2 separate regions of the Homo sapiens genome follow, and region 2 is linked to region 1. Evidence: fine-mapped expression QTL. Tissue or cell type: whole blood. Region 1 holds a variant in brackets; the other region holds the start of a gene. All regions are shown on one strand. Distances are between the middles of the regions. Region 1 overlaps ZNF10 (zinc finger protein 10). Region 2 holds the start of ZNF268 (zinc finger protein 268).

Region 1 (5,386 bases):
GAGTGGGAGTGGTGGGCCAAGCATGCTTGTCAACGGGGCTCCTGGGATGCAGATATGCAGGAGCTATTGAGCACCAATGCAGGGTGAAGTGTGGTAGGGTCTGGGCTCTCAAAATGGCACTGTGCTGCAGCTACTTAGGACTCAGGGTGTGTGTAAGACCCAGTGTATGCCCCATCTCTGTAGCAATGCCATCATGTGGTCTCCAGGCAGCTACTATGTTGGTCTTAGGGCCTGTGAGGGTTGAGGAAATTTCCCATGCTAGGATTGCAAGAAACCATGGTGGAAATGTGGACTGCTAGGGAATCTCTCACATACCCTTTCCTCACATTGGGGTGTTTCTCTGGGTTCTCAGTCAATCTCCAGTGGCTGAGCAGGCTACCTCACCTCCCTCTGCTTCCTTGCCTTAGGTGTTTTCTATCACTTCTCTGTTGAATTATATGTCCTCTCTTAGATGATCTACTCAAAGTGTGATTATATACTTGCCATTTTTGGTTCCTCTTTGTGAATGAGGTGAGTACCAAATGCCTTTAGTCAGTCATCTTGAAGCCCGCCCTCTAAACATAGGTTTTATATTCACTAGGAAACCAAAAATATTGTGTGACTTCCTTATGATGATTGATTGCTTTGTTGTGGTGGTGTAGAATGAAGCCTGCAGTATCTCCAAGGAATGCCTGTAATCTGTTCACTTTTTAAAATTTACTTTCTGTTCCTCACACATATAATTCCAATTGTTTTATCTCCAAGTTTGCTGATTTACCTTCTGTCTGCTCAAATATGCTGTTAAACCTCTATACTGAATTTTTCATTTCAGTTATACTTTTCATCTCCAGAATTTCTCTTCAGTTCTTTTTAATAATTTCTATCTGTTTATCGATATCACCATTTTGTCTAATAAGTTCAATGTCTAGGCAGTGAGGACTGATTCAGGAACACTCATGTGAAAAGCTTCTATTTCCCAAACATATTATCACAGCATTCTCCAGCACTTTTTAACTGAAAAACCCTTCAGATCAGTATATGACAAAATTCATTAGAATTTTAAAAAATTGGCCGGGTGCAGTGGCTCACGCCTGTAATCCCAGCACTTTGGGAGGCCGAGGTGGGCAGATCATGAGGTCAGGAGATCAAGACCATCCTTGGCTAACAGGGTGAAACCCCGTCTCTACTAAAAATACAAAAAAATTAGCCAGGCGTGGTGGTGGGCGCCTGTGGTCCCAGCTACTCGGGAGGCTGAGGCAGGAGAATGGCATGAACCCGGAAGGCAGAGCTTGCAGTGAGCCAGATCGCACCACTGCACTCCAGCCTGAGTTACAGAGCGAGACTCCGTCTCAAAAAATAAATAAATAAATAAAATAAAGATTAATTTCGGGAGGACTGCCATCTTAACAATACTGAGTTTTCCCATCCTTGACCAAGGTATATTTCTCCGTTTCTTTTGTGTTATTTATTCTTATTATATGTTCCTTAACTTCTTCCAGCAATGTTTTATAGTTTTCACTGTGCAGGTCTTTCATGTTTCATTAAATTTATCTAAGTATTTCACATTTTTTCTATCATTGTAAATGGGATTATATTTCTAATTTCATTTCCTAATTGGTCACTGTTAGTCCAAGCTGCAACATTTTATAAACCCCCAACCATTTCACAGACCCTGGTCAAGGCGATTCTTCAGGGGCTTGGGCCATGAGAAACATCCTACCTAACCACCTGACAACAGGAACATCTTTATCAAATGCTGCCAGGCAGCAAGCCATACCACCCAGACCCCTTCCACCCAGACCTATAATTACCCCAGCCTGAAAGCAGCAGTGGGCTCCGGCACTAAGCTGGTCCCCTCTCTGCAGGTTTTTGCTGGCAATAAACCTGTGTTTCTGTTGAGCCACTCTCTCTTTAACCCTCACCTTTCCTTCAAAACCTAACTTTTTTTGTATCATTATAAATGGAACTGTATTTCCAATTTCATTTCCTAATTGGTCACTGCTAGCATATAGAAATAAAATTGATTTTTGTAACCTCATATCCTATGACCGTGCTAAATTCCTTTATTAAGGTTCTAGTAGCTTTTCTTTTTAACGGAAAA[C/G]GAAGAGTCTCACTCTGTCACCCAGGCTAGAGTGCAGTGGTGCGATCCTGGCTCACTGCAATCTCCGCCTCCCGGGTTCAAGAGATTCTCCTGCCTCAGCCTCCCGAGTAGCTGGGATTACAGATGTGCGTCACCACACCCAGCTAATTTTTGTATTTTTAGTAGAGACAGGGTTTCACCATGTTGGCCAGGCTGGTCTTGAACTCCCAACCTCAGGTGATCCACCCGCCTCAGCCTCCCAAAGTGCTGGGATTACAGGCGTAAGCCACCGTGCTGGGCCTCTAGTAGCTTATTAATATGTATGAGCCCTCACACCCCTTTTTTGGAGACAGGGTCTCACCCTGTTGCCCAGGCTGGAGTGCAGTGCTGTGATAATTCACTGCAACCTCAAACTCTGGTCTCAAGTGGTCCTCCTGCCTCAGGGCCTTTTAAGTAGCTAGGACTATAGGTATGCACCACCACACCTAATTTTTAAACTTTCTGTAGAGACAGGGTCTCGCAATGTTGCCCAGGCTGGTCTTGAACTCAGTCAATCCTCCTCCCTCAGCCTCCCAAGTTGTTGGGATTATAAGCATGAGCTAACACACTGGGCCTTGGTATGAGCTTCTGAAGAAAAAAAAAATTCCATCACTGAGGAGATTGTTTTCCTAATTCTACAAGTAAGATATATTATTTCAGGAGGCTTTGGAAAGAACTGAAAAGTGTAAAAATAGAAAAGGAAACACCAATTTTCCCAATATATAGGCTAACTACTGTTAATATTTTGACAAATCTCCTTAGTTTTGGGCAACACTCATTTTTTACATTTATTTTGACATATTTGAGCTTATTCCATATTAACAATTATTTATCATGCTTTTGTAACACATGACAGCATTTTTCCTTTACCAAACTTTTTGTGTACATATTTTAATGCCTGCATAATCTTCCATTACACGGATATGCCACAAATATTATGCTAGTGTACATTTTTTATTTTGCAAATTATGCACTGTCATAAATATTTCAGTGATCATCCTCATACATATTTCTGTCTTCATTACAAGTTAGACCCTTAAGGTGTTAACAATAGTAATATTATTAATGGCACCTACTATGTGCCAGGCACTCTTTTATGTGATTCATACATATCATCTCAATCCACATGACAACGCTTTGAGGTAGATACTAGTAGTAACCTCATTATACAGTTGAGGAAATTGAGCCACAGGTTATTAGCAATGTTAAGAGCCCCAGTTAAGTGACTATTCTACTCCCTTAATGAAAACCATTTCTGATAGGTATGTTGTATGTGGGCATGGTGTGTACACAGTGAGAAGAGCAGCAGGAAACATGAAACCCAGGACCTAGTTCTGAGTCTGACTTCACTGAAAATGTGAGACCGGGGCCAATTCACTTGATCTCAATTGTACAACGACAAGTATGAGCTAGAGGCTGCCATGTTCCTCGTAGTTCTCAAGTCTCCTGATTCTAACCATCATTTCTAGGTTTTTTCCTCAGAGAGAGATCAAGATCTCTGGTTGGCTTCAGCAATACTTCATCTATCATTCAACAATCAATCATTGAGCAGCTAATATTTATGCCAGAAAATGGAGAATCATGGTCAGTCCCTATATACAACAGACTGATTTATAGAATGAAAGAGAAAATTAAAATAGATCCTCTTCCTGAATCTTTTGTGGGTTATTAACTTACCAGAGAATCTGAAGACTGGGATCCTCTCCATAGAATGGAAAACCTTTGTACAAACAGAATAAATGTGTATACAACATTACAAGCTGTTTATTGATCCTCAGAAATGAAACCTATATCCACTATTTGTCAGTGATTTTCCCAGGCTGTTGAGTTCTGATTTAGGCAAAAGGGAAAAACCATGTATGACTGTAAGGGAAGTGAGAACTCAGTAAATTCTTATAAGCACACAAGCAGATTTCAATTAAATAACAGATATTAGGGTGCGGCAATATTATTAATAATCACAGCCAGTAACTACAGAGAACATAATATATGTCAGGCACTATTCTAAGCTGTTTCCATTTACTCATTTAATACTCACCATAATCCTACCAGGTAAGTACTATTATTATCGCTAATTTACAGATGAGGATATCAGTAAGTTTGGCACAGAGAAGCTAAGCAGCATGTTCAAGATCACCCAGCTAGTGGGGTTTCAACCTGGGTAGTCTAGCTCAAGTCTACGCTCTTAAACACTAATCTTTCTTTATAAAGATAAAAGACTACCTTGAGAAAGAGGGTATCTTTGGACTGTGCTCTGTTTATCACATGAGGACACTTGCTCTAAATATTGTTTAAATACTTGTTCCCACTAAAATGGGGACCCTCCCTGATATGTTCAAATGCCCAATGTTCCCCTAGGTCCTAACATCCAGAGAATTACTGTGTTTTTAAATTCTCAGGAGCTTTTGCAGTGCTAATAAGAGTGGAAAAAGTGGAACTCTGTGACCCAAAACAATTTAGAATAGGAAAGCTCATTAACAGGTGGTACTCAAAAGCTTCTTTGATGGTAGAATAGAGAAACTAGATATCCTCTTACAATATTTAAAAGTTTCTTAAAATAATTATTACAGCAACATTAAACAGACTATAAAACTCAGTCAAAATCTCCTTATCTAACAAATCAATTCTGTTCAATTATCTGTATACTTTCAATTCTTGCCCACATGCAAATGTACTTAAAAATGGGTTAGCACTGGTAGTGGAGATGTGTTGTTTTTAATTGTACTACATTATAAGCATTTTTCTTGCTGTTAACCAAAATATGGTTTCTACCAGACACATAAAACATACCAAACACTACTAAATGTCCCAGAAGAGAGACATAGTCAAGAAAACAATGACATATTGACTGAAATATTATTTTCCATCTTTTGTTGCATTAACTGTATCATTTCTTAATTCTCAGCAACAACTCTCCCTATAGTAGCATACTCATTTCTTTTCAAATGAAGGGGTTCTCGCTCAACAACTCACCTATTTAATAATTCCTTCTCAGATTCTAGCATTTAAGACTTGGTCAAGAATGCTCTCAGGCCAATTACTTCTGTAGGAATTCATGAAAAGAAGAAAATCTGATGGATTTGTGTACTGAAATAAAATCTGTGGTTTCTTTCCCTTCCAGGACCAATTCTCTAATGTGCAATAGGATAGTAACAAGACTGAAAGCATTTCCACATAGATTCAATTTGTACAGCTTATCTCCAGGAGTTCTCCAATGCAAAATAAAGTCATTGCTCTTTGTGAAAAATTCCCATATTTATTAGTAAGCATTTTCTCTAATATGATTTG
Region 2 (5,386 bases), 21 kb before region 1:
CTCTTCTTAGGGTACACATTCTCCCTGAGCTACTTTGGCCACACCTAATTTGCAACCTCTACCTAGAGGAGCCAATCCATACAAAACTGAAATCTTCCCCCTCTACCAATCACAATTCTGACAGTCTTCCCTTACTCAGCAAATGGTGACACTCCCAACCAGGCCCACAGAGTAGAACTCCAGTTGTCATCCCTGGCTTTTCTGCCTCTCTTAGCACTGCACCCAACTAGTTATGAAATCTAATTTCTTCTGCCTCTTTACCTCCTCTCCTTTTTTTTTTTTTGAGACAGAGTCTTGCTCTGTCACCCAGGCTGGAGTGCAGTGGCGCGATCTCGGCTGACTGCAACCTCTGCCTCCTGGGTTCAAGCGATTCTCCTGTCTCAGCCTCCCGAGTAACAGGGATTACAGGTGGGAGCCACTGCACCCAGCCACCTCCTCTCCTTTCTCAAAACCACTAATTTACTTAAACCCTTATATTCTCTTACCTGCTGCAGACTAGACTGTTCTACCCTCAAATCCGTTGTGAAAACACTTCAATAAGTAAACTCCTTCCCCTATACCAACAGTCCCCAACCAGGGACTCGTTTTGTGGAGGACAATTTTTCCATGGACGGGCAGTCGGGTGCGGCGATGGCTTCTGGATGAAACTGTTCCACTTCAGATCATCAGGCATTAGAGTCCCATAAGAAGTGCGCAACCTAGATCTTTCGCATGCGCAGTTCACAATAGGGTTTGTGCTATGAAAAGCTAATGCAGCCTCTGATAGGAGGCGGGGCTCCGGCAGTCATGCTCACTAAACCGCCACTCGCCTCCTGCCATGCACCCCAGTTCCTAACAGACCACAGACTGGTACCAGTCTGAAGCGTGGGGGTTGGGGACCACCTGCCCTATGTGATACAATCCAAGTTTTTAATGGGGTCCTCAAAGCCCTCTATGATCTTAGGCCTACGGCTCTAGCCTCATTTTTTAATATAACTCTACTATCACCATTAAACTCAACATTTTAGCAACCCTAAAGTGCCCAAAGTTCACCACATGAGGTCATTTCAAGCCTCTCAAATTTGCACGTTACTTCTTTTTCCTAGGCTGGTTTTAATCCTTTGTCTACTTTAGGTTTGTCATCTTTCAAACCTAAGGTTAAGAATCTCTTAATCATTGAAGCATTTGGGAGTAAGGGGTTAGGGGGTGTCCTTACTTCCAAAACTGACCCATTCCTGCATGTCTCCGTGTATTTCCACAGCCTGCTCCCAGAGCACTCATTAACTTGTCATTGTCTTTCTTATCCACCATTCCTAGACCACTGTTCTTCAAGACAGGGATGATAAGCAACCCATCTTTGCATTTTTAGCACCTGCCCCAGGGTCCAGCAAACAAAATACAATAAAAAAAAATGTTGAACAAGTGAATAAAAAAGTTTGTAATTTCCAAAATAAGGTTTAAAGATCCCAGATACAGAAGGCCCTCAGTAAATAAAGGCTGAAAAAACTGAAAGATGTGTGAGTATCCCTTGTTTAACTCCAAAGTTCAGCGTACAAAGTTGTTAGAAAAGAGATTGATGAAAGGAGGAAAAAAGGAAGTCGGATGACAAGAAGCATTTCTGGAAAGTCTAACATGCTATAAATGACGATCCAGTTGCCTAAAAGAGCGGTGGGGTGAGAAAGCTCCTGGCAAATTCAGACTGGAGTAGATGGAGTGCGCACACGTTGGCATTCAGGGAGAGCTTTTCAAGAATGAAAGAAAACCCCTACTCACCCAAATAGAAGCTGTCCGGACCCTGGTGGCCATCCCTACGGTCAGTTTTGTGTGCCTCGCTGGAAGTGACAGGACGCGAGGGATGCTAGAAGAGAGAGCACAGTGAAGAAAGAGGTCACCCAGCAGTCCCCAAACCCAGAGGGGGAGGGTCCGAGGCACCAGGGCTGCCTGCCATTCTCGGAGCTGAGGCTCCTTCCCTCCCACAGCACGGGATTCACCATCTCCACACCCTCACCAACACACAGGTTAGGGTCAGGCAACCGCCCCGGGTCAGCAGCAGGAGAGAGCTAAGGCAGATTAGTTCTGTCCCGTCCCGCCGCCTTGAAACCGGAGGAATTCCGCACCTCCGGCTCCTCCAAACCCTGAAGGGGCAGCAGAATAGAGTCCAGGGTACTGCCTCCACCTCCAGATCTGCAGCCAGAAGGGTTCGCAACCACTCCAGACTCGGCTGGCCCGTTGACCACGACGGGCGATGAACGCTATCTGAGGAACAAGGATCTCGCCATCGGCGCGGAACAATGGCGGCCGCTACGTATGTCGCACAGGAATTGCGTCATGGAGAGGCAAAGGCAAAAAAACTACAACTCCCAGAGGCCTCTGCGAGGAGTTACTCCCGCGCCGGAGGGCTCCGGCCAAGGGCCACCGGGAGGGGGCGTGCTAAGATGACCCGGAAGCTCAGGCCTTCCTGGCCAGGTCCCTGAGCTCCCGCGCTTGCAGGTTTTAAATTTTAAAGAGAATTAAAATACTTGACACCAATGGCTCAACGGTTGGAGGGATGTAAATTAGGTTACAAGTGTTCTAGTCCCTGCTTTACTGAAATGGTAAAAGTCTTATTTTGCTTTACACTTTAATAACAGATTCGTAAAATTCCCATTACATGTTAACATAAATAATATTTTAATGAAAATTACATATATTTTACAAAAGAAAAAATTTAGTAAGGAGTGGCTTCGCTTTTTAAGTCTTTTCTGACTTACTAGAAAGCTGGATTCTCATATCTGCTTCTATGTTTAATCTGTTGCGTATGTTGTTTTTGTTAAAGTATATAAAGATACAAGTCGAACAAGGGATAGTTTTGTTAGTGTACAATCTGAAACCACGTAGATGAACTTTTTCTACTCTATTACATAAAATCCGTTGGTCTACACTGCACTTTGAATGGATTCTTTTATCACGCATGATTTCGTAACATCATGTATTGGCCAGTTGGAAAATATTGGTTTACTTTAATGGCAAAAGCCGCAATTACTTACTTTTGCACCAACGGAAAATATCCACTAATCATTATTGATCTTAAGTATTGGGAAGAGGTGACATTCACAGAGGCAGATACAAGTTTTCTAGAATTCTTTTGTTTTTGGCTTTTAAAAACTTTTATAAATTTATGAGGTACAAGTGTAATTTTGTTACATGCATCAGTTGTGTAGTGGTGATGTCAAGGCTTTTAAGGTATCCACGCCCTATAGTACGTTATATGCATTGTACCAGTCAGGTAATTTATGATTATCCCTGAAACCCCCCCACACCTTTTGAGTCTTCATTGTCTATCATCCCACACTCTACATCCATGTGTACATATCCTTTAGCTCATACTTAAAGTGAAAACATGTGTTTTTCTTTCTGTGCCTGAGTTGTTTCACTGAAGATAGTGGCCACTAGTTCCATCCATGATGCTGCAAAAGACAATTTCATTCTTTCTTATGGCTGAATAGTATTCCATTGTGTATATATAACACATTTTCTTTATTCATCCATTCATGGACATTTAGGTTAATTCCATACCTGTGATATTGTGAATAGTGCTGTGATAAACATATGAGTGCAGGTATTTTTTTTATATATATAATGATTTCCTTTGGGTAGATACTCAGTAACAGGATTGCTTTATCAAATGGTAATTCTATTTTTAGTTCTTTGAGAATTCTCCACACTGTTTTCCATAGGTTATACTAATTTCACTTTCTCACCAACAGTGTATAGGAGTTTCCTTTTCTCCACATCCTCACCAACATCTTCTTTGTCTTTTTATTTTTATTATTTTATTTTATTTTTTGAGACGGAGTTTTGCTCTTGTTACCCAGGCTAGAGTGCAGTGGCCCGATCTCGGCTCACCGCAACCTCCGCCCAGGTTCAAGCAATTCTCCTGCCTCAGCCTCCTGAGTAGCTGGGATTACAGGCATGCACCACCACACCCGGCTAATTTTGTATTTTTAGTGGAGACAGGTTTCTCCATGTTGGTCAGGCTGGTCGCAAACTCCCGACCTTAGGTGATCCGGTCACCTCAGTTTACCAAAGTGCTGGGATTACAGGCATGAGCCACCGAGCTCGGCCTGTTTTTGTTTGTTTTGATTTTTTTTTCCTTTTGAGACGGAGTCTCGCTCTGTCGCCCAGGCTGGAGTGCAGTGGCGCGATCTGGGCTCACTGCAAGCTCCGCCTCCCGGGTTCACGCCATTCTCCTGCCTCAGCCTCCCAAGTAGCTGGGACTACAGGGGCCCGCCACCACGCCTGGCTACTTTTTTGTATTTTTTAGTAGAGACGGGGTTTCGCCGTGTTAGCCAGGATGGTCTTAATCTCCTGATCTCGTGATCTGCCCGCCTCGGCCTCCCAAAGTGCTGGGATTACAGGCGTGAGCCACCGCACCCGGCCCGGCCTGTCTTTTTAATAACAGCTACTGTGACTGATGTAAGATAATATCTCTTTTTTTTCCCCCACAACCTCGCTCTGTCGCCCAGGCTGGAGTGCAGTGGCTTGATCTCGGCTCACTGCAACCTCCGCCTCCTGGGTTCAAGCAATTCTCCCCGCCTCAGCCTCCCAAGTAGCTGGGATTACAGGTGCCCACCACCATGCCCGGCTAATTTTTGTATTTTTTATGAGAGACGTGGTTTCGCCATGTTAGCCAGACTGGTCTTGAACTCCTGATCTCAGGTGATCTGCTCACCTCGGCCTCCCAAACTGCTGGGATTACAGGCGTGAGCCACAGCGCCCGGCCTCATTGTGGTTTAAATTTGCATTTCTCTGATGTTTAGTGATGATGTTGAGCATATTTTCATATGCCTGTTGGCCATTTGTATGTCTTCTTTTGTAAAGTGTTATTTGTGTTCTTTGCCTGCTTCTTAATGGGATTATTTGGGTTTCGTTGTTGTTGTTGATCTGTTTGAGTTCCCTGTAAACTCTAGATATTAGTCCCCTCTTGTATGCAAAGCTTGCAAAAATTTTCTCCCATTCTGCAAGTGTCTCTTCACTCTGCTTACTGTTTATTTCACTATGAAGAAGATTTTTAGTTTAAGTCCCATTTCTCTCTTTTTCTGTTTGTTGCATGTGCTTTTGAGGTCTTAGTCATGAATTATTTACCCAGACCAATGTCCAGAGGGGTTTTCCGTAGGTTTTCTTCTAGTATGTTTATAGTTTCAGGTATTCCATTTAAGTCTTTAATACAGCTTGAGTTGATTTTTGTATATGGCGAGAGATAAGGGTCAAGTTTCATTCTTCTGCATATGGCAATCCAATTTTCCCAGCACCATTTATTGAAGAGGTTGTATTTTCCCCATGCTTGTTCTTGTTGACTTTGTCAAAGATCAGTTGGCTGTAGATATGTGGCTTTATTTCTGGGATCTCTATCTGTTCCATTGACCTA

Evidence for each region. PIP is the estimated chance that this variant, and not a neighbour inherited with it, causes the effect.
Region 2: it holds the start of ZNF268, and the variant in region 1 is fine-mapped to the expression of ZNF268 in whole blood (INTERVAL, PIP above 0.99).

The regions. Positions count from the first base shown.
Region 1 is chr12:133,156,940-133,162,325 of GRCh38, reverse strand. It overlaps ZNF10 (zinc finger protein 10), which reads right to left. Exons shown (of 5, transcript NM_015394.5): 5 at 2,861-5,386. The coding sequence ends at 5,358. Among named protein-coding and RNA genes, the nearest start is that of ZNF268, 22 kb to the left of the region's middle. RefSeq lists an enhancer at 2,282-2,451. The variant C/G (reference allele first, on the strand shown) is at 2,081.
Region 2 is chr12:133,178,397-133,183,782 of GRCh38, reverse strand. ZNF268 (zinc finger protein 268) reads right to left here and starts at 2,288. Exons shown (of 6, transcript NM_003415.3): 1 at 2,097-2,288; 2 at 1,753-1,837. The coding sequence starts at 1,785. RefSeq lists enhancers at 1,901-2,100, 2,141-2,450, 2,046-2,570.